Regions from separate parts of the Homo sapiens genome. Here region 2 is linked to region 1. The links come from fine-mapping of genetic effects on gene expression. A gene starts in region 1. The other region holds a variant in brackets. All regions are shown on one strand. Distances are from middle to middle.

Region 1 (9,995 bases):
AACCTAAGAACTATCTGCTTTTTAAAATGTCAAATCTGTGGTGATGGTGTGATAAGTTGCTTTGATAGGTTATGAGGGGGAAGTCTTTTCGGGAAGAAAAAGAAATGAATGTCCACAGGCCTTTGCCTAGTTTCAATGCAGTTCAAGGGGTGAGAGTTTGCTTCACAGAAGCTCTTCTTGGGATCTGGAGGGACACTCAATGGGCTGATCTTTTCATCTAAGTAGGAAGCAGAGTGCAGAGCTGGAACAGCAAAGACCTGGGAGGCAACAGACCTGGATTTTAGTCCTGGCTCTCTATATTAGAGACTTGCTTAGTAATTTCAGAAGAATCATTTCACACGTAAGACTCAATGTGGTTTTCTTCTAAAACGGAAATAACATTTGCTTTATTAACCTCACATATTTATTTGACATGACTCAGAGAACTCTAACACTATGCAAATGAACATGTTTCTCTTGTTTCTAAAACTCCATCCTTAATGAGCAACACTGTCAGGTAGATAAAGCTGTGCTACCTCTTCATATTTGGTCCACTGCTCTTTAGGCAAGATCTGATGCTTCAAGTTCAGGTCCAGTGCCCTCTTAATGCGAAACATCCTGTCATTATAAAGGTTCTCAGGAAGTCTTCTTATGGCTTCTTTTACATCTTCATCCTCGTATATTGTATCATCTCGCATTAACCCTATGATAGATGACAAAGTTAGATTGCACATGCATCTCAAAAATCGCGGTTTTTTTAAATTAGTAAAATACCTTTATGACTTATAACTTACAACTTTTGGTGAACTATCGAATTCAAATCACTAGGTTCAATGGAAATTCAATGCATTTCATACATTATAGGTTGGTGCAAAAGTAATTGCAGTTTTGCCATTAAAAGTAATGAGTTATTACTTGATATAATGGGTTACTTCTTGAACTAGACTATGGAAACAATATATGAGCCTCTTAAAATCCAATGCCACAAAATTCATATTTTATCTAAACCATTTACAAAATATTTTAAATGTTTACTTTGTTTTTAAACACACATTAATAAACCACATCTCTTTTTTCTCATAGTTTAAATCTGAGATCAAGGTATTAAAGAATCTTAAAATGATAGTATACTAAGGAACAGTGACTTTTGCTTACACTTTCTTCAAGCTTCAATAGTAAAAGATGAAGTTCATGGTAAATTACAAAGTTCTAAAAAAGCTTAGGAATCATATGATTGCATGGACGTGATAAAATTTTAATATTCAAAAACTCTCTACTTTCAATGTTTATATAATTTAAATTAAAATTTTAAGTGGAAGGCCGGGCGCAGTAGTGCACACCTATAATCCCAGCACTTTGGGAGGCCGAGGCAGGTGGATCACCTGAGGTCAGGAGTTTGCGACCAGCCTAATATGGTGAAACCCCGTCTCTACTACATACAAAAAAAATTAGCCAGGCGTGGTGGCACACGCCTGTAATCCCAGCTACTCAGGAGGCTGAGGCAGGAGAATCACTTGAACTCGGGAGGCGGAGGTTGCAGTGAACCGTGATTGCGCCACTGCACTCCAGCCTGGTGACAGAGCAAGACTCTGTCTCAAATAAATAAATAAATAAATAAATAAAATTTTAAGTGGAAGAGTTGGGAAAGGGGGTGTAGAAGGAAAATGTCTTACTACTTAAATCATTACCAAGTCGAACATTTTAGAGGCTTTCATCCCTCTTCTCTCAAAAAAACTTTAAAAAGGAACTGGATTTAACATAATGTGATTTAATTTTAAAATCTTCTGATGTATACAAGAACTGAAATGGTTTTTGGAACCACAGTAACACTTGCAAAAGCAATACTCTCAGAAAAACAAAAAAAAAAACAAAGAAACAACAACAACAACAAAAAACATTAAACAGCACAGCTGCTTACCCAGTTTATTGAATCCTGCAGCATTGTAATACCATTTTCGAATACCATCCAGCCACTTGCCTGATGCTGAAACTGATAATTGTCACACTGTTAATTGCTACAATTTAATTATACTATATGAACACATTGATAGGCAAGCAACCAGTACTCAGTTATCTTGCTGATGAATGCAAACATAGAAATAAATTTCCTTTTAAAAGTATATAGTATATACAGCAAGAATTTAATCAAAAGAATTAGATTTAAAAGAAAAAAGTTTATACTCTATAAAATGTTGATAAAAAGTGCTTATTTTATTTATGAGCAAAAGTGGTTGCAGGAAAATGGTGGCAAGTCATGAAAGAAAAGGGTAAACTCAAACACTGAATGTACAAAAGATCCATAGGTACATCGTGTGCCCTTATGCCTGCCCTGTTACCTTCAGAAATGAAGGGGTGGGAGATAGGAAAAGGACTTGGAAATTTCCATCATTTGTAGTTTCATAAATAGATCACAGGAAATAATTGTAAACTTTTCATTTCAAGAGAGCTGGAGTTGTAGGGAAAAGACAGTGAGATTTCAGCATAGACTGGCAGGTCTAAATGACCCTCATCCTCTAAAATTTTTACTCGATATTACAGTTATTTCATTTGGCCACATTCTTTAAAAATGTATGTATTTTGGGGAGGATTTTGATACCATTAGTCATTTAAACATTAATATGGATTCGTAAAAGAAGTCCATTTACCTCCTCCTAAGCAACTAAGTTCCCCCCAAGGGAATGGATATTGAAAAAGGATGAGAAATAGGTAATTTTAAAACTGTTTGGGGAACAGGGCTGAGCCTGATGAAGTAACCCAGCAGGGTCCAAGTACAGCAGGACCGTATCTGACATTTTAGGAGAGACATTTTACAAAAGGAGAGGTAGAACAGGTTTGTATTCTCTTTTAAAATTTTGTCTAGGGTTAGCCCTTACCAAGGAAGGAAAGCAAACTCTCCTTTCACTCAACTCTCCTTGCTTGCAAACTCAGTGCACTACAGATTACGTGGCTTTAGCAAATCTCCTTGGAAATTAAGAGTCATGTATAAAACTGCTGCTAGAAAAACAAGTATCAGTCAACAATCTACAAACATACTTGTGGAAGACAGATTATATTCAACCACCTATCAGTGACTATAATAATATTCACTAAGCACTTATTGTGCACCAAACACTTTCCTATTTGCTTTACCAACATTAGCTGATTTATTTACATGTCTGTTACTACAGAAGGGGAAGCTGGCTTACAGAAGTGATCCCACCCAAGGTCAGAGTTAGCTAATGGGAGTTGAGATCTGGTCTATGTAGTTCCCAAACACGCACAGAAGCAGTGTCTTGAATTTAGTAAGACTCCTTCAATATCTGCCAAATTAATAAAATAATTATTTAAAAAGTCTCCCCCACCCCCAAAAAGCTCAATGTCAATTAGGTTAACGGATGTTTCTGGCAACCTGATGTTTCCTAACAGCTTCACAATTGCTGGGGGCGGGGAGAAAAGGATCAACATTTTTTAAGCTACTCCAACTTGGTTGCATTGCAGTGAGACGAGATTGTGCCATTGCACTCCAGCCTGGGCGACAAAGCAAGACTCCGTCTCAAAGACAAAACAAACAAACAAACAAAACGGCTACTCCAACTTGTACCGCCAGAGGGCAGAGATTAGCAAAAAAAAAAAAAAAGAAAGAAAAAAGAAAAAAAGAACCTACAATAAATTCAAATTTCTCCAAACCTACTGATCAAGCTGACGCTCTAGATAATCCAAGGTCAACCTGAAGCGTCGCTCGTATCCCTTGCTCAACTGTCTCTGATTCGCAGTTTGAGAAGCGCGAGGGGTGCAATGATATTTCCAATTCTACTTCCTTGGGTCACTTTGCCTCAGTTATCTTATCAGCGTAAAAGGGAAATTAATATCTCCCTCGTCGCAATGGCAAGAAAATTTATAGGGCCAATGCACACGATAGAGCACTTGGGTCATAGAAAGCACTGAGCTCATTCGGGTTGAAAGTCATCCACTAGTTATCCTCTTGTGCCCTTTAACTTTTCTAAGGCCAAGGGGAAGGACTTCCAAGCACGGGCAGCTGGAACTCCAGGGCTGTCAGAGCCACCGCGGGCACCTTCACAAACAGCGGGTTAACATCCCAACCCTATACAGGCAAGCCCGCCCTGGGGACAGCAAACGAGTGGGGAAGCACATCCTTTTCACTGGACTGAAGCAGCCAATTTCCCTTCCGCGACAAACTTGGCCACTTACAAAGAAGAGAGAAAACGGAGCAAGCTGCAGCAAAAATAAACGGTGAAGCGCGACGATGCCGGCCAAGAAGACCCCCAGTTACTTACCGGCCTGCTTACCAGCCATTTTGACCAGAAAGAGAAGCGTTGCCTTCTGGGTAAGTCATAGAGGACAAGCTGGGCCCAGTCCGCAGGCGCGTTACGTCACATCGCGAACAGAGAAAGGCCGCTTGCGCAGGCGCAGTTCTGACGACTGCCGTTCAGCACCTGCGTAAGCACCTCTCGGCCAGGGTGAGGCCAATGGAGTAGGCGGGGCATTTTGCGTGCTACATTCTAAGAAGTATTGGTTGTGATGTGATGGGAAGAACACAGGTCAGGAATTAGGAGACCAAGGCTTAAAGCTGGGTTCTGTTATTTGCTGTTAATAGCTATGGGAGCGTGGACAGTATTAATTCAGCTCTTTGTGCCAGGCAGGAAGCTAAATGTTTTAAGGGCATCGTCTTACTTTCTATTGAAGGACTGATGGATGTGCCATCCCAAAAATATATGGAATTGGTACATTGATTATTTCGAGTTGAAAATATTGGAGAAATTGTAGTTTCAGAAAAGGTTTGATGACCTATCTCTTCCTGCATGCAGCAAGCCATAAAGCTTCCTCCAGGATTCCTCTGGAGTACCCGTCCCTTACCAGAGGGAGAAAATAGCACCTATCACCAGAGACGAAACTGGGGGCTGCTTTGGACCTGAATATACTTTCCGAAGTAACCGTTATCTTCCACTAAGTTTACACCCCAACACACACACTTTTCTCCTAATGACTCCGCGAGAAATTTACTGCCCCTAGCCAGATCCCCTTTCTTCTGATTTGTAGTTCGTGTAAAAAGTATAAAGGCATCTTACATTGGCCACTTCACTCTTTTGTGCGGATCCCCATGTACATGTAAAACTAGTAAAATTAGTATGCTTTTCTCTTGTTAATCTGCCATGTGTCAATTTGGTTCCTAGATTCAACCAAAGAGCCCACATAAGAGCAAAGGGGAGGGAGGGTTGGAGGTGATCTCTCACTCCCCTAAACTATCTTTTAATTCTAAAAGTACTGTAATTATCTCATTGTAGAGAGGAGAAAGCTGAGGCTCAGAAAGGTTGAATAACTTGTCCAAGAGCACATGACTAGAAGAGTCCAGGTTCTTCTTCCAGAATCTGAAAATCCAGATGCAAATTTGGGGCTCCTTAATTCTAGGGTCATATGCTATACTGCTACACTACTAATCCAGGAAAGACACCAAGCCTTTCAGGCCTTGGGTTTCTCCAGCTGAAGATCTATATCTAGCTATTTTAGTGGAAGGTTAGGTCAGAAAAGGTTTTGGGTTTTTTTTGTTTGTTTTTTTTCACCCTTTTTTTTGTTGTTCAGCCTCTGTCACCCAGGCTGAATGGCACAATCTCGGCTCACTGCAACCTCTGCCTCCTGGGTTCAAATGACTCGTGCCTCAGCCTCCTGAGTAGCTGGGACTACAGGTGTACACACTACCATGCCCGCTAATTTTTGTATTTTTAGTAGAGACGGGGTTTCACCGTGTTGGCCAGGCTGGTATCAAACTCTTGACCTCAAGTGATCCACCCACGTCAGCCTCCCAAAATGCTGGGTTACCCGCGTGAGCCATCATGCCCAGCAGAAAAGGTTTTTAAAGATTAAATCTAAGATGTATTGCAGAATTTGCACACAATTTTAAGACAAAAGAGAAGTATATAGATTTTCTCACTTTTAAGGTCTCAACCCCAACATGCGAAGTCTTAGGCATAAACATCTAGAGACAGAAAACAATTAGGGGGAGCTAGCATGACTGATAGTTACTGGTGAACTTCTACCATTACTCAGTGATATCTTTTTTTTCCCCTCAGTTTTAAGCTCAGAGCTGGGACAATATAGAGTAGAACCTTGTCTCATCCTAAGTTCAAAAGGTTAGATTTAACGATCTTAGTCACATTCCAGTTCTAAAATTATATTGATTTTCCTTTTTCTTCTATCTCCATGCTGTCACAATTTCTTCATTAGTCAGTCCTGTATACAGCACTAAAGCTGATGAATGATCTATCTTACACTAGCCAAAGTGAAGTCTGAAAGATGTGAAGAAATGCAGTACATTTGTACATTGGCACATTGCCCTGCAGAGGGTAGGTACTCAATAAACTCTCCTCCCTTCCACCCTTTAAGTTTTAGCTTGCTGGTTACAGGTGAAGGTGGCAAGAAAAGACATATCAAAAGATCTGAAACCCAAAATTGTCACAAAATCCAGCTCCTAAGGAATTAAGCTAGAGAGACTGAATGTTTGCTGGTAGTGATTGTTGATTCAAAAACTATTTTTGGTTTTCTTTCCTCCCAGCACAGGATTAGGGATTGCCTCTCTGCCCTATTAAAGTTAGGCATGGCCATGTGATACTTTGGCCAAGAAAAATGTGATAACTTTTTAAGAGCAATTCTTCACATTCCTTTCCTTTTCCATAGACTGGCAACACTCCAGAAATGATGGAGACAGGATACATCAACCTGTATCACTGAAGATGATGTGGAGCAGAGCCTTTGTGGTCCTAAGAAACATGTATAAGATAAAAACTTTTGTGGTTTTTCAATCATTTGAGGTTTTAGGATTGTTCATTGTATCAACACAACTTGCCTATTCTGACTGCTAAGGTTGTTCACTGGGTTATTCATAAAGGCAAAATGAGGTTGTGAGCCACAGAAAGAGAGGACAGGATGGTTCCATGGTGTCCCCAGCTTATTTTTTATTGTTTCCTGTTTATTGATCTCATCCATTGGAGAACTCCATGAAAGCACATATCTATGCCACACTCACCACTGTATTATAGAACTCAAATGTCGGTTGCATGAATAAAATATGTAACAGGAAGGCCACTATACCTGGCCCTGACCAATTACAAATTTAGTTTTTCATGAGGTTTTTTAAAGGGCATCCAGCACACCACAGAACCCTGTGCACAACAAACTACCCCCAAAGTTAGCGGCTTAAAACACTTTCTCCCAATTCTGAATTCCGCTGGGTCGTTCTGCTTAGTGTAGTATCTACTAAGTCTGGGACATCCCAGATAATTTCTTCATGCATGTCTGGTGCTCAGTTGGCATGTCTGAAAAAGCTGGGTTTGGCCAGACATCTTTCTGTCCACCTAGTTTCTCCAGCAGAGTAACCAGACCTCTCTACACAGTAGCTTAGGGTGCCAAGAGCAAATGTTCCAAGAGGGCAAGCCCTGATGTGCAAATCCTTAAGCCTCTGCTTGACAAATGTCCTCTGGGCCAAATCACATCGGCCCAGAGTCAGTGTGGGAGAGGACTAACTACACAAGAGTGCAAATACCAGGTATGGTTCATGGGGGCCCCCAGTGTTAACAGTCTACCCAATCTGGTGATCATAAGGCAGACAACTGAAGTCATGATGCTTCGTTTTACAAATAAAAAAGCAAAGGCTCAGAAATGAAATCACTTGCCCAGGATAACACATGTTGTAAATGGAAAACAAATATTTGTTTACTGGTAATAAGTCAAAGGCTAGTTAAGCCTTTCACTATATCTCATTGCCCCTAATCTTTAAACTCCACTTTCCTTTTCCTTATTCTTAGCCAACTGTGAATATCTGTGTTCAAGAAGTTAACAATGTAGATAATCCAAAATGAAGTGTGTTTTGTAGCATTATCTGAGCAGTAGATATTAGATGACTAATGTAGTATGCTCTGGAAACTCGTAACAGTTCAAAGGAAATAAAGCCATTTTATAATGAAACCACTTTAAAAATCCTCCACTGTTTTCATCTTCACGAGAATGACAAAGCACCAACTTAAAGTAAACCAACTCTTTCCCCTTCTCTGAGCTTGCTGTATTTCCTAAGAAGGAAGGAAAAAGTCAAACAAGAATTAAGTCACTAGGAACTTGATGAAAGTTCTACCACAGTATATGTACCCAAATTTACAGTATCAAATGGTTTCCAATATCAGTTGAGACCCGAGGCATTTAAAAATATATTCATTTATTCATATATATATTCACTTTACAATACTGCATTTTAACATACATAAAAATCTAAAGCGTTTTTAAGAATTTTTCAAAGTCCTGTACTGATGCTTTGGCAATCTCTTCACAAAATATTTCATCAGGAATAGATACTAGTTTGTCCAAAGAGATGTAGTTAGGTTTTGCTGGATCATACTGTGCTCTTCCTAAATAGGTAAGAAACAAGTGTCTTTCTTTGACCTTAAACAGCCTTGTATTAAATACCTAGAAAAGAAAAAAAAGTTTTTAAAAAACACTGCACACGGGAGGATGAAATATTAAAAAGTTTACTTGGCAAAAATTTTAATAGGTTAACCAATACCAAGTACTGACCATGTGTTCAGTAAGTAGGATAAATGCCAGAGGATTTAAATCCTATATTTTCTGTGAAGAAACTAGAAAAAGGGATTCAAAATCAACATACAAAACAATAATAAAATAATTCAGGGCTATACTGTGTGCAAAGAAGATTGAGTGCTCCAGAGACAGAGGAGAATGTGTTAAAAAAGCAAATCTTCGGCCGGGCGTGGTGGCTCACGCCTTTAGTGAGGCTGAGGCAGGCGGATCATCTGAGGTCAGGAATTCAAGACAAGCCTGGCCAACATGGCAAAACCCTGTCTCTACTAAACATACAAAAATTAGCTGGGCGTGGTGGCGCATGCCTGTAATCCCAGCTACTCAGGAGGCTGAGGCAGGAGAATTGGTTGAACCCAGGAGACGGAGGTTGCAGTGAGCCGAGATCGCGCCACTGCACTCCAGCCTGGGCAACAGAGTAAGACTCCATCTCAAAAAAAAAAAAAAAGGCAAATCCTCAAGCCTCACCCCAAAACTACTTAATCAGCAACTTTGAGAGCAGAACCCAGAAATCTGTCTTAACAAGCCCTCTAGATGATTCTGATATCTACCAAGTTTGAGAACCAATGTTAGAGATTAAGATGTTATTATATAAAAATGTATAAGATTTCATAATCTGTAACACCTCTCTCTCTCCCTTTTTTAAAATTTGCACTCCTCCCCTTAACTAGAATCAAAATGAAATGAATCTGACCTCTGGGAGAGCAACTAGGGAAAGTATGTCTTACCTGCCTCAAAGTAAAACTCCTAAAAACTAGAGTAAGCGGCAGCAACTTTAGAAAGGAGTCAGAAGCAGGCAAGGCTCTACAGCCAGCTACAGAAAGAAGAGACAAATGGGAGATCCGGCCAGACTTGAGCTACAGCCCTGAAGCCTGAGAGACCTGTGAGGTTCCCCGATGAGGCTCAGAGGAAGCCCTTTCAATATTATGCCTGCCTCAAGCTCTCCTCTTGGCTGTTACAGATATAATGTGAACACGGGATGCGTTCACATAACCCCTAGGCCTCTTTCCCTATATTCAAGTGGAAACAGTAACAGATCAGTTGGAAAGGACACTATGAAAAGCAATTGTTGAAAACCAAAGTACTATGAGAAGAGTGACTAAAAAAAGCACAGGGTGTACCTCAACATGGGTTTGGCTTGCTTTTGGAACAGAACATCTCCCTTCTCAGTCTCTGCTATTCTGCCCTTGTTCTGATAACTAAATTCCCATGATCACAATATTATGGATAACGAAGATGTAAGAGGTTTTAGATAGATTTTTTTTTAGAAGTATGACTCCTATGCAGTGATTCTTGGCTTAAAAAACTATCACCCGGCCGGGCGCGGTGGCTCACACCTGTAATCCCAGCACTTTGGGAGGCCAAGGTGGGCGGATCACGAAGTCAAGAGTTTGAGACCATCCTGGCCAACATGGTGAAACCTCGTCTCTACTAAAAAC
Region 2 (10,177 bases), 210 kb after region 1:
AAAATGTGGTCATCTTTTAAAACATGAGCCATAAAGAAAAAGAAAACTCAGAAGCAACCTTAAAGTAGAAGATCTTGAAACTTAGTTCTATTTTGAATACTTTTGGATTTCTGGGACAGGGCCCCTGTGGTAGAGGGATGCAACAAATTTACAATGAACCAGCAGGAAAGGAGTTGAAGGAATATATGCAAACCTCACACTCCTCCCTCTCCCTCTTCTTCTCCTGGCATCCCCCCACCCGCTGCCACCCCACCACTGGCCAAACCTAACAGGAGGCCAGGTTGGTAAGGGAAACTGTTGCTGCAGTCCATTCAGGAGAGACTTCCAAAATACAAAGCAATGTGGAAAAGAGTAAAGAGTGAATCCACAAGAGTGAAGGGTGTGAAGGGTAAGTAACCAGCACTTGCCCCACAAGCACACTCACAGTTATCCACAAACATATTTGTGTAACACCTTACAGTTAGCAAGTACTCAACTTTCAAACATTTTTCAAATAAGTACTTGACCCATAGCAGGTACTCCATATATATTTATTGGACAAATCAATGAAATATATTATTTGTCACTGAATTGATTTTTTCTATTCCCAATAATTGGGCTTCTTTATAAATTACTTTATTATGGAATAATACCACAAAATTTACCATTTTATCCATTTTAAAGTATACAATTTGGTGCCATTAAGTTCAGTTGTGATGTTGTGCCACCATCATTCCTGTCTTCTTCCAGAAGTTTTCATCATTCCAAATGGAAACCCTATATGACAAATTATTTTTGAAGTGACAGACTTGTTTTTCATGCAAAGATTTGTGAAAGACAAAGGATTTATAAGATCTATTAGATAGTATGATAATTTTCCTATTAGTCAAGATTTTAAAAAAAGACTTCAATATTATTTTATTAATAGAAACAGTGAAATACATAGAGCAGTTACATAGAATTAACATACAGACAGCAGTTAATTCAAACATGGAACCTGAGTATTTGAGGAAATAACTTCCCATTGACTACCTTGATTGATTGAATTGGCCAGAAAGTCGATTAATTTTTCATTTCAATTGGACTATAGAGAGATGCTAACGCCCTAATAGCACATCCTTCCTCCTTCTCAAATGATGGAATATCCACTTTCAATTCCCAACCTTTGCCAATGAAGCCAGATAAATCTCTAAAGAGTTTTGATAACATAATTTGACAATCTCCATCAGCCAGTTCATGGCAGATGGGAGGTCTAGTCCTGGTTCTGCCATCACTAGCTGCAAGCATGCAGGGGCAATCTGGCCTCCCTTATCTGTAAAACAGGGGTTTTGGGGGCTGGACTTTGATTCCCTAAAACTCCTGGCAGCTCTAACATCCCCTGTGACTCTGGCTCTGCCCACAAACCTCTGAAGCTTTCACTGGAAAATGCTCTTAGTCTATGCACATCAAATATCTAACACACAGTATTTACCCTTCTGATGAAACAGCCAGAGTGGAATTTGACCTTTTCAACGAATCATGGATGTGAGAGCCAACATTCTGTGCACGTAAAGCCAGTTGGGGACAGGTTTAGCATTTGGGCATGTAAGTAAGGCAGATTTGTTGACTAACATGTTTTCAGTGAGTATTTTAATGATATGGGGAAGCTAGTTCTGACCTATTGTCAGCAGCACAGTTTTCCCTACAGAACTGGTTGACTGGCACTAATTCATCCCCATTCTCCCACCTGGTCTCCTTGGTAACCAAGGTCCTAGATCTATGAGATATTTGCAGGACATCTGGCCAGGATTAAGGCACAGACTAGTGCTATCAGAGATCAAGCCCATAGCCTTGGCCTTTGAAGATCCCAAGCGAATTAAAGAACTGCAACCACAGGCAGGGATGTGAAACCACCCAATCCTGCTGCTGAGTCAGGTTAGCACAGCAGCTGAGAATGCAGGCTCTGCAACCAGGCTGCTTGGAACTAAACACCAGCCTGTCCCTTACTTATAGTGGAACTTTGGGCAAGTTAATTTGATTCTCTGGGCCTCAGTGTCCTCCTCATTCATAAAATGAATTTAATAAAAGTACTTTCCTCATATGGCTGTTGACAGAATTAAATGCATTAAAATACTAAGAGAATCTAGCCCTGTACATAGCAAGGGTCCATTACAAATTAGGCAGTGGTAATACCAATGTGATGACCAGTAGCTAGGTTTAACACCAATAAGAAAAACAGGGATTTTCAAGACAACCACAGACAGCATTGTTTTAGGGAGATCCACAGCAAAGATGGTAGGACTTTAAAAATGTAGCTTTGAAAGCCTCTGCTAGATTGCCATGACCAAGTATGCAAGGTTAGACTATCAGGCCAGGGATCTGAACACAGTAAAAGGTTGTGGAGATTTAAGATCATAGGTTTTGGCATCAGATAGATGTGAGTTGGGATACTAGCTCTGCAGATCACTAGCTGTGAGAACTTGAGTAAGTCCATCTATTGGAGCCTTGTTTTCCTGAAATGTAAAATGCGGATAGAAGCAGAACCTGTCCCAGAGAGTCATGCTAATGACTAAATGGATAACGCATGCAAAGTCCTCAGCATACTGCCTGGAGCATAGCAAACCATCAATAAATATTAATGGCTATTGTTACCAGGTCTGATGATGCACATATGACCCCAGTTTTCTCCCGTATTCCTAAGTTTATTCACTTACTCATTCATTTCATCTGTCAAACATTTGTCGGTACTAGCTTTGTGCATTTTATCAAATGGGACACCAAGGAATTAAAAAATGATTAAGAGATGAGGTTCATGCTCCTATCTCATAGACTAGCCCAGAAGTGAGTAATAGATACTCCAAGTAACAGGAGGGCCACTGCCCAGCCCCCTATGCACAGTTTGGGATCACAGAAGGGAGCAGCCGCAGGAAGCAAGAGGCGGGTCAGGATTAAAGGAGGTGTGTGGAAGAGGCTCTCGATGGCTGAGGAAAGGCTGTACGGCCTAGCGGTGAGGGGCACAGGCTCTAGACTCCAAGGGCCTACACTCACAATTCCAGCTCTGCCACCATGAGCTCCCGTGACTTGGTTAAGCTACTTTATTTCTCAGTGCCTCAGTTCCTCTCAGTTACAAATGATAAAATGATAATACTTACAGAATTAGTGAGTTAAAACATGGGAAGCATTGAACCGTGTCTGACTTGTAGTAAAAGTGATTGTTATGGCATGGATAAGAGAATGGGAGAATTCTCCAGGCAGGTTAGTGCTCAGGAGCTTCCTTTTTTCCTTTTGAAATGAGATACGCCCACGTAATCCTGCCACTGTGGTCCTCAAAGTCCAGAAAGATGAACCCTCTTAGTTTATCTCAAGAAAAACTTAATCTTAGCTATGGCTTATCAGAAACACATGTGGCCCCTAATAGATTATATTTCTAGTATGTACTATATATATTATCTACTATATATGTTGCATGCATATAATACATATATATGTCTTCACTTTCCCTTTGGGCCACTTTTCAGCAAGCACTGATTCAATATTATGTGGCACACAGAAACCACTTCCCCTTGGCCTCCTGGCATCCCACCCTCTCAACACTCATCTCCCCAGGTCCTAGCCTCATACCGTCATTGCCCTGGGGTGGAGCTGATGAGTGTCATCTTGGAGGGCTCTCCATAGTTCCCTGACTGGGGTCCTGTTTGCCTGTGTTTTCAAATTCTTTAGGTAGAGTACCCACCACATAAGCCAGCCTCTTTCATGCTAAAACCAATCATCTCCCATAGAAAAATATGTACCTATTTTATGTTAAAAGACCCCCTCTGCACTAAGGCAGAACAAAGAAAAACAATAGGGGTGGCCACAGCATTGAACCAACAGGAAATATGTTAAGAAATTTTCTACTTAATTCCCCACACAGAGGTCTGGTACAGAGACCATTTCATGGCTTTCTTTATAAGGTCACCCAATGCCAAGCTTAAGCTCCTGAGGTCTAATTTAGGAGGGTTAAGAACTTAATAGAGAATTCTAAGAGCAGCTGGGTAGATGCATCATTCCCTAAACCCCACTGGGATCCTGATTCCAGCAGCATCAAAAGTCTTACCTCCTGACCACCAGTGACTCAGTGAGCAGCCTGGCTCAGTGTGTCACCATGATGCTTGTCAGTGGATGCATCTGGCCTCACCGGCCATATGGTGGTTTGGAAGAGCTCTTTTGTAGTTTGATGGTTTGGAAATGACTGGGGCTCTCTTCACATTCTGTGCTGTTGGCTCATTTCTATTGGAGAAGAGCGGCTGCTTCTAGGGCTGACTTTGCCCTTGACACTGCTGATGGAAGCCTTATGAACTGATGTTTTTCATCATTCAAGCCATAATATCTTAACTTGTTAAGGCAGATAGGTAAGAACTAGTAGCTTAGGAGCAAGTTGTCAACAAGCAGCATTTCTTGAACAATTAAGATGTGTCAGACATGGTGTTGGTTGCTGGAGATACAGGGAGATAAACAAGACAAATAAGTCAGACCAGTTGGGGAGAGAGATGAAAATGGCGATCACAGTCAAGTGGGACAAGTCCATAGGAGAGGGTGTGCGGGAGGCCATGGGAACTAAGCGAGCCAGAAATAGCTTCCAAAAAGTAGCTCTACTTGAGTTATAAAAAAAGAGTACCATTAATTGAGCACCTACCATGCCTAGGTCCTCTCCCGTATATTTTACTTGTGTTATTTCAATTCATTCTCTCACCAAAGACACACAGCTAATAAGCAACAGAGCTAGGGTTTGAATACAGGGCAGTTTGAACCAAAACCCATTCCACTCCATCCCACTGCTGAGAAACTAGGCAGGCCTGGGACAATGGGTGGGAAGATAGGATCTCAGGTCAGGGAAACAGCCCTAGTAATGGGAAACAACTGTGGACTCTAAGCCAAACAGAAATGGCAGGTGTAGAAATCCTTTCCCAGGCC[TG/T]CGGCAGCATGTAGCACACGCTGTTACTAAGCCCCGAAACGGCCTTAGACTCCTTCTCAATTCACCCCTGCAGGATCACTATGAATCAGTTTTGAACGCTATTTGCTAACTGGAATAACTAGATAAATCTGGAAGGGCCATAGGGGTTCTAAAGGAAACTCGCAGAGCCAAAGGCTCAGGAAGGACACTTTTTTCCAAGTTCTCAGTTGCCTCAAAGGGAAGAACGTTAACCCTGGAAATTCTACTACTCAAATGCTGAGGCTAACGCTTACTTAAGGAACAGGACCTGACTTCAAGGTTAAGGTGCCTTTCTTTGATGTTTCAATCCTGGTATTAGCTACCAGCAGACACTTGTTGACTAGCCCAAATCCAGACCCTAGAATGGCACTGAAAGCTTGGAAAGAAGTGCTCAAACTTGGGCTTTGCATTGAATATCTTAAGAACAGATTCACATCAGCTACTTGCTTCACTCTCCTATTTAATTAAAGCACTCTTACTGTCGTTACGGAGAAGCATTAAAGGCTACTCACCTTTGGTTGAAATGTTTATATTTGGCTGCACCAACTTGGAAGATCACTTTGACCCAGCCAGAACTTTGATTAATAATCTCCAACATTTTCTGCCTCTACAATTTTTGAGCACTCGGCTGATGTTTGATGCCCAATTGGGATTAATCTCCATTTCCCATTAAGAGGAGTAACTATTTCTCAGGTAGTTTTTTTGTGTGTGTGTGTGCTGGCTGCAATCTTTGCAATATCCTTGCAGGGGCTCCTGTGGGCTTAAACATATGACATTCAAAAAATAATATGTAAATGAGTTTCTATCCATTTTATCAAGGGGGTTGTTTTCTCCATTTGTAATCTGTTTTTATGATTTTATTCTTCCTGCAGGAAAAAAAGAAGTTAGAGGTGCATTCAGCCCATACCCATAACATTGAGACCAGCTCTCTGTGATGAAACTGGAAGCAAATTCCAGATGAGAGCCCCAATTGTGCCAGAAAAGCATTGCAAAGCCCAGTGATCCTGACTAAATTGTCACACACAAAGCAGAACCTTTGATAAGAGCCATACAACCTCTGTTGCCTGGGTAACCATCAATCCATCAAGCCAGCCTTGAGTCATAAACGGTGAGAGGAGAAGGGCTGCCAGGAAAAAGGGGTGTACAGACACTTCTTGTTCCTCCCCACCTCCAGATGTGGCCTGAGGCTGCCATGCAAGGTTAATAGAAGCCTACTGTTATGTCCCTACAGACCTAAAAGACCCCTCTTACCTTAACCCTAATTCAAGGATTCTTGGATCTCCATTAGTCTTATTACAAAACCTCCTCAGGTTCTTATCAGTGCTTAGCACCTTACCAGCCCTAAGCCATACTCCTCAAAATGCCGGTCCACTGATTGGCACTATGTTGTTCACAGGATGCCTCCTGGACTGCACTTTAGTAACACTAGACTAGGGTGTCCTCAGGACAACCGCGGCTGCTCACCAGAGCTCACGCGCTTCCTGTCACTTTCACTTTGGACTGTGCTGATGAGAAATCTACTCTATGGTTCTGCTTTCCATCACATCCAAGATGCTGCACACAAATTGAGAGAGAAAAATTGATAAATATGCCTTCACTGAGCAACTAGTTCTAGTTCTGTACCAACACTTCTAGGTATATTCCCAAAAGAACTGAAAATAGGTGTCAAACAAAAACTTGTACGTGAATGTTCATAGCAGCACTATTTACTTCCCATAGCCAAGGGTTGGAAACAAACTAAATGTCCATGGATGGATGAATGGATAAATAAAATGTGGTATAGTATACAATGAAATAGCATTTGGCCATAAAAAGGAATGAAGTGCTGATACCTGCTACTACATAGGTGAAACTTGGAAACATACTAAGTAAGTGAAACAAGCTGGACACAAAAAGTCACATATGGTATGATTCCATTTACATAAAATATTCAGAATAGGTAAATTAGTACAAACAGAAGCAAATTAGTGGTTGCCAGGGATTGGAGAAGAGGAAGTATGAAGAGACTTCTTAATGGATATGAGGTTTCCTTTTGGAGTGATCAAATGTTTTAGAACAACATAGAGGTAATGGTTGTATAACATTGTGGATGTGCTTAATGCCACTGAATTGTACAGTTTAAAAATCTTAATTCTATGTTATGTAAATTTTACATTCATAAAAAGCAGTACAATGAAATTTATTATTTTAAAATAAGAAAAAGCAGAAAGAAAAACATTACCCTATAATTCTACCACCCCAAACCAAATTCTGTTCCCAATTTATTCCATGTATGTTCCATAGTAATAATTCATACTGCACATATAATTTATACTTTGTTTTAAAACTTAATGTTATTTCCAGGATGGGAACAGTGGCTCATGCCTGTAATCCCAACACTTTGGGAGGCTGAGGCAGGCCCAGCCTGTCCAACGTGGTGAAACCCTGTCTTTATTAAAAATACAGAAAAAAAAATTAGCTGGACTTGGTGGCGGGCGCCTGTAATCCCAGCTACTCGGGAGGCTGAGGCAGGAGAATCTCTTGAACCCAGGAGGTAGAGGTTGCAGTGAGCCGAGATAGTACCACTGCACTCCAGCCTGGAAGACAGAGCAAGACTCCGCCTCAAAACAAACAAACAAACAAAATGTAATGTTATTTTCAGAGCATTATCTTTGTTACATAAGTTTCATAATCTTTAACTACCGAAGAAACTTTCTTAATATACATATTTTAAATTGCTTCTTAAAATTATTGTACTAATTTATATTGACACCTGAAATATATGAAAATATCTATTTCACACACACCCTTGCTAGCATTGACTAGTCTCCCAAAAAGAGAGGAAAAAAAGTTAATTCATTTCATTTGATTGTTAGGTTGTTATTGATTTTATTTGACTATCTTGAAACAAAAAATTTTGTTTTCTGTTTTGAAACTAATCCAATGTTTAGTAAAGACTCCTCTATGCTTTATTTTGTTAGAGTAGATACTAGTTAGTCGTTATTGTTTTGGGGGTAATCCCACAGTAAATGCTTTTAAACATACTATACTAGAAACAGTTTGTCCCTGAAGGAGGAATTAGAAAATTGGAAGACTGATATGATCAAATTACCTACTGCAAAACTGAGCAGAGATAGAAATTATGAAAGATAAGACATAGAAATAAAAGTTTAAAGTTCCGGAAAAAATCAAATAGATCGTATCAGTGAAGGATTTGACCTAGTACAATTGTTGGAAGTGGTTAGACACCCCATGAAGCTATCGCCTTCCTGTCTGATGCTGCAGTAGCCACCATTTAGCCCCTCTGGCTGCCAGTAGTCACAGAAATAAAACAGACTGGCATTGATATATTTCCTGAAGTGTGGGTTGTTGGGGTTTATACATGGTCACCTCCTTATACCCCAAGGTGTGTGTGTGTGGTGGGGGAGGGACAGTGAGTAGTGACACCAGGAGCTGGGACTGTGGAAGCCACTTGTTTTTTCTTCTCCAGGAATTAGTAGAGATTAAATTTCAACCCTGAAACTTAAAAGTAATCACAAGAGCAATTTTTTTTAAGTTTACTCTTTAACATTATTCTGTTGAGATGCCACTCACATGGCAATGTGGCAGAAAGCCACAGAGGTCACGCACACTTCACTGCAACTTGGCTTGTTAACGAGTCACTGGAGATGAGGCAGAGGAGAGCCACATCAGTGGCTGCCCTGCGACCTTTGCCCACAGCCTTTCTGCTCCTCACTGAGCCTCCTGGCTAAAGCATCCCTTTGGAGGATTGTAAAGAATGGCTTAAAAAAAGGAGAACTTTAGGATTTCCATAGACATTGCCCAAGATTAATCTTGTATTTGTTCTCTAGTAAACCCAGGTAAGAATATCGCAGAATAGTCTACCAGGTGGCGATCTGTCAAGATGCAAGATTCTCCTCTTTCCTATATTAGAGTAGAAATAATGGGAGAAATGGGTTCAACTTCAGTGTGCAGAAGAAACTGGGATTGAACTGTGATAAAACTTGTTGAAATAAAGCACACACATCATATGGACTCCACTTACAATGGGAGGAAGCTGTGTTCTCACTGGTCATTCCTCCATCCTTCAATGCCAAAGTGCAATGCAGGGTGCTGACTTCCACACTCTATCACGTAGAGCCATTGTGTCCTGGAGGCCAATCCCACCTTTCGATCCCAGCAACTCTGTTCATATCTAATGTATATATTGGAATTATATTAAGATGTTGTTTGGAAACAGATCCCAAATTCCAAAATTAGTTTGTAAACCCACTGGTTTTTTTTTTTTAAACCTATGATCTATAATCTATAATTAATTGGTTTGGGTCTCAATTTTAATTTCTTCAAGCTGTGTTATCTTAGGCTAGCCACTTAGTATTTTGCCTCTCGAATTCCTTACCTGAAACATTGGTATACTGACTATTCACTGATGTTTCTGAGGATCAGTCATGCGGGCAGTAAATAAGCTGTAGGCCCAGGGGCCCAGAACAGCTATTGAGAGGTGACAGCATGCTGGCAGCCCTCGCAGCCCTCGCTCGCTCTCGGCGCCTCCTCGGCCTTGGCACCCACTCTGGCCGCGCTTGAGGAGCCCTTCAGTCCGCCGCTGCACTGTGGGAGCCCCTTTCTGGGCTGGCCAAGGCCGGAGCCGACTCCCTCAGCTTGCAGGGAGGTGTGGAAGGAGAGGCGCGGGCGGGAACCGGGACTGCCCCCGGCACTGCCCCCGGCGCTTGCTGGCCAGCAAGAGTTCCGGGTGGGCGTGGGCTCGGGGGACCCAGCACTCGGAGCGGCCGGCCTGCAAGCCTCGGGCAGTGAGGGGCTTAGCACCTGGGCCAGCAGCTGTGCTCACTTCTCAGCGGGCCTCAGCTGCCTCCCTGTGAGGCAGGGCTCCGGACCTGTAGCCCGCCATGCCTGAGCCTACCCCCAACACCATGGGCTCCTGCCTGGCTGGAGCCTCCCCAACGAGCGCTGCCCCATGCTCCACAGCGCCCAGTCCCATCAACAACCCAAGGGCTGAGGAGCCTGCGCACGGTGGGGGACTAGCAGGCAACTCCACCTGCAGCCCAGTATGGGATCCACTGGGTGAAGCCAGCTGGGCTCCTGAGTCTGGTGGGGACTTGGAGAATCTTTGTGTCTAGCTAAGGGATTGCGAATGCACCAATCAGCACTCTGTATCTAGCTCAAGGTTTGTAAATGCACCAATCAGCACTCTGTGTCTAGCTCAGAGTTTGTAAATACACCAATCCACACTCTGTATCTAGCTAATCTAGT

Direction of the effects. Positions count from the first base shown, and alleles are read on the strand shown. Sizes are in standard deviations (SD) of each study's normalised expression.
As copies of T replace TG in region 2, the expression in tibial nerve of the gene that starts at base 4,287 in region 1 goes down (moderate effect, 0.60 SD a copy in GTEx).

The links. PIP is the estimated chance that this variant, and not a neighbour inherited with it, causes the effect.
Region 2: its variant is fine-mapped to the expression of UQCRB in tibial nerve (GTEx, PIP 0.91).

What each region holds. Positions count from the first base shown.
Region 1 is chr8:96,231,259-96,241,253 of GRCh38, forward strand. UQCRB (ubiquinol-cytochrome c reductase binding protein) reads right to left here and starts at 4,287. Exons shown (of 4, transcript NM_006294.5): 1 at 4,254-4,287; 2 at 1,898-1,969; 3 at 516-682. The coding sequence starts at 4,272. It overlaps UQCRB-AS1 (UQCRB antisense RNA 1), which reads left to right and starts at 4,035. Exons shown (of 2, transcript NR_183275.1): 1 at 4,035-4,303; 2 at 6,649-7,938. MTERF3 (mitochondrial transcription termination factor 3) reads right to left here. Exons shown (of 8, transcript NM_015942.5): 8 at 8,144-8,427. The coding sequence ends at 8,233. RefSeq lists an enhancer at 4,014-4,293.
Region 2 is chr8:96,442,735-96,452,911 of GRCh38, forward strand. All of the region lies in intron 3 of LOC105375653 (a long non-coding RNA gene), which reads left to right. Among named protein-coding and RNA genes, the nearest start is that of SDC2, 46 kb to the right of the region's middle. The variant TG/T (reference allele first, on the strand shown) is at 4,912.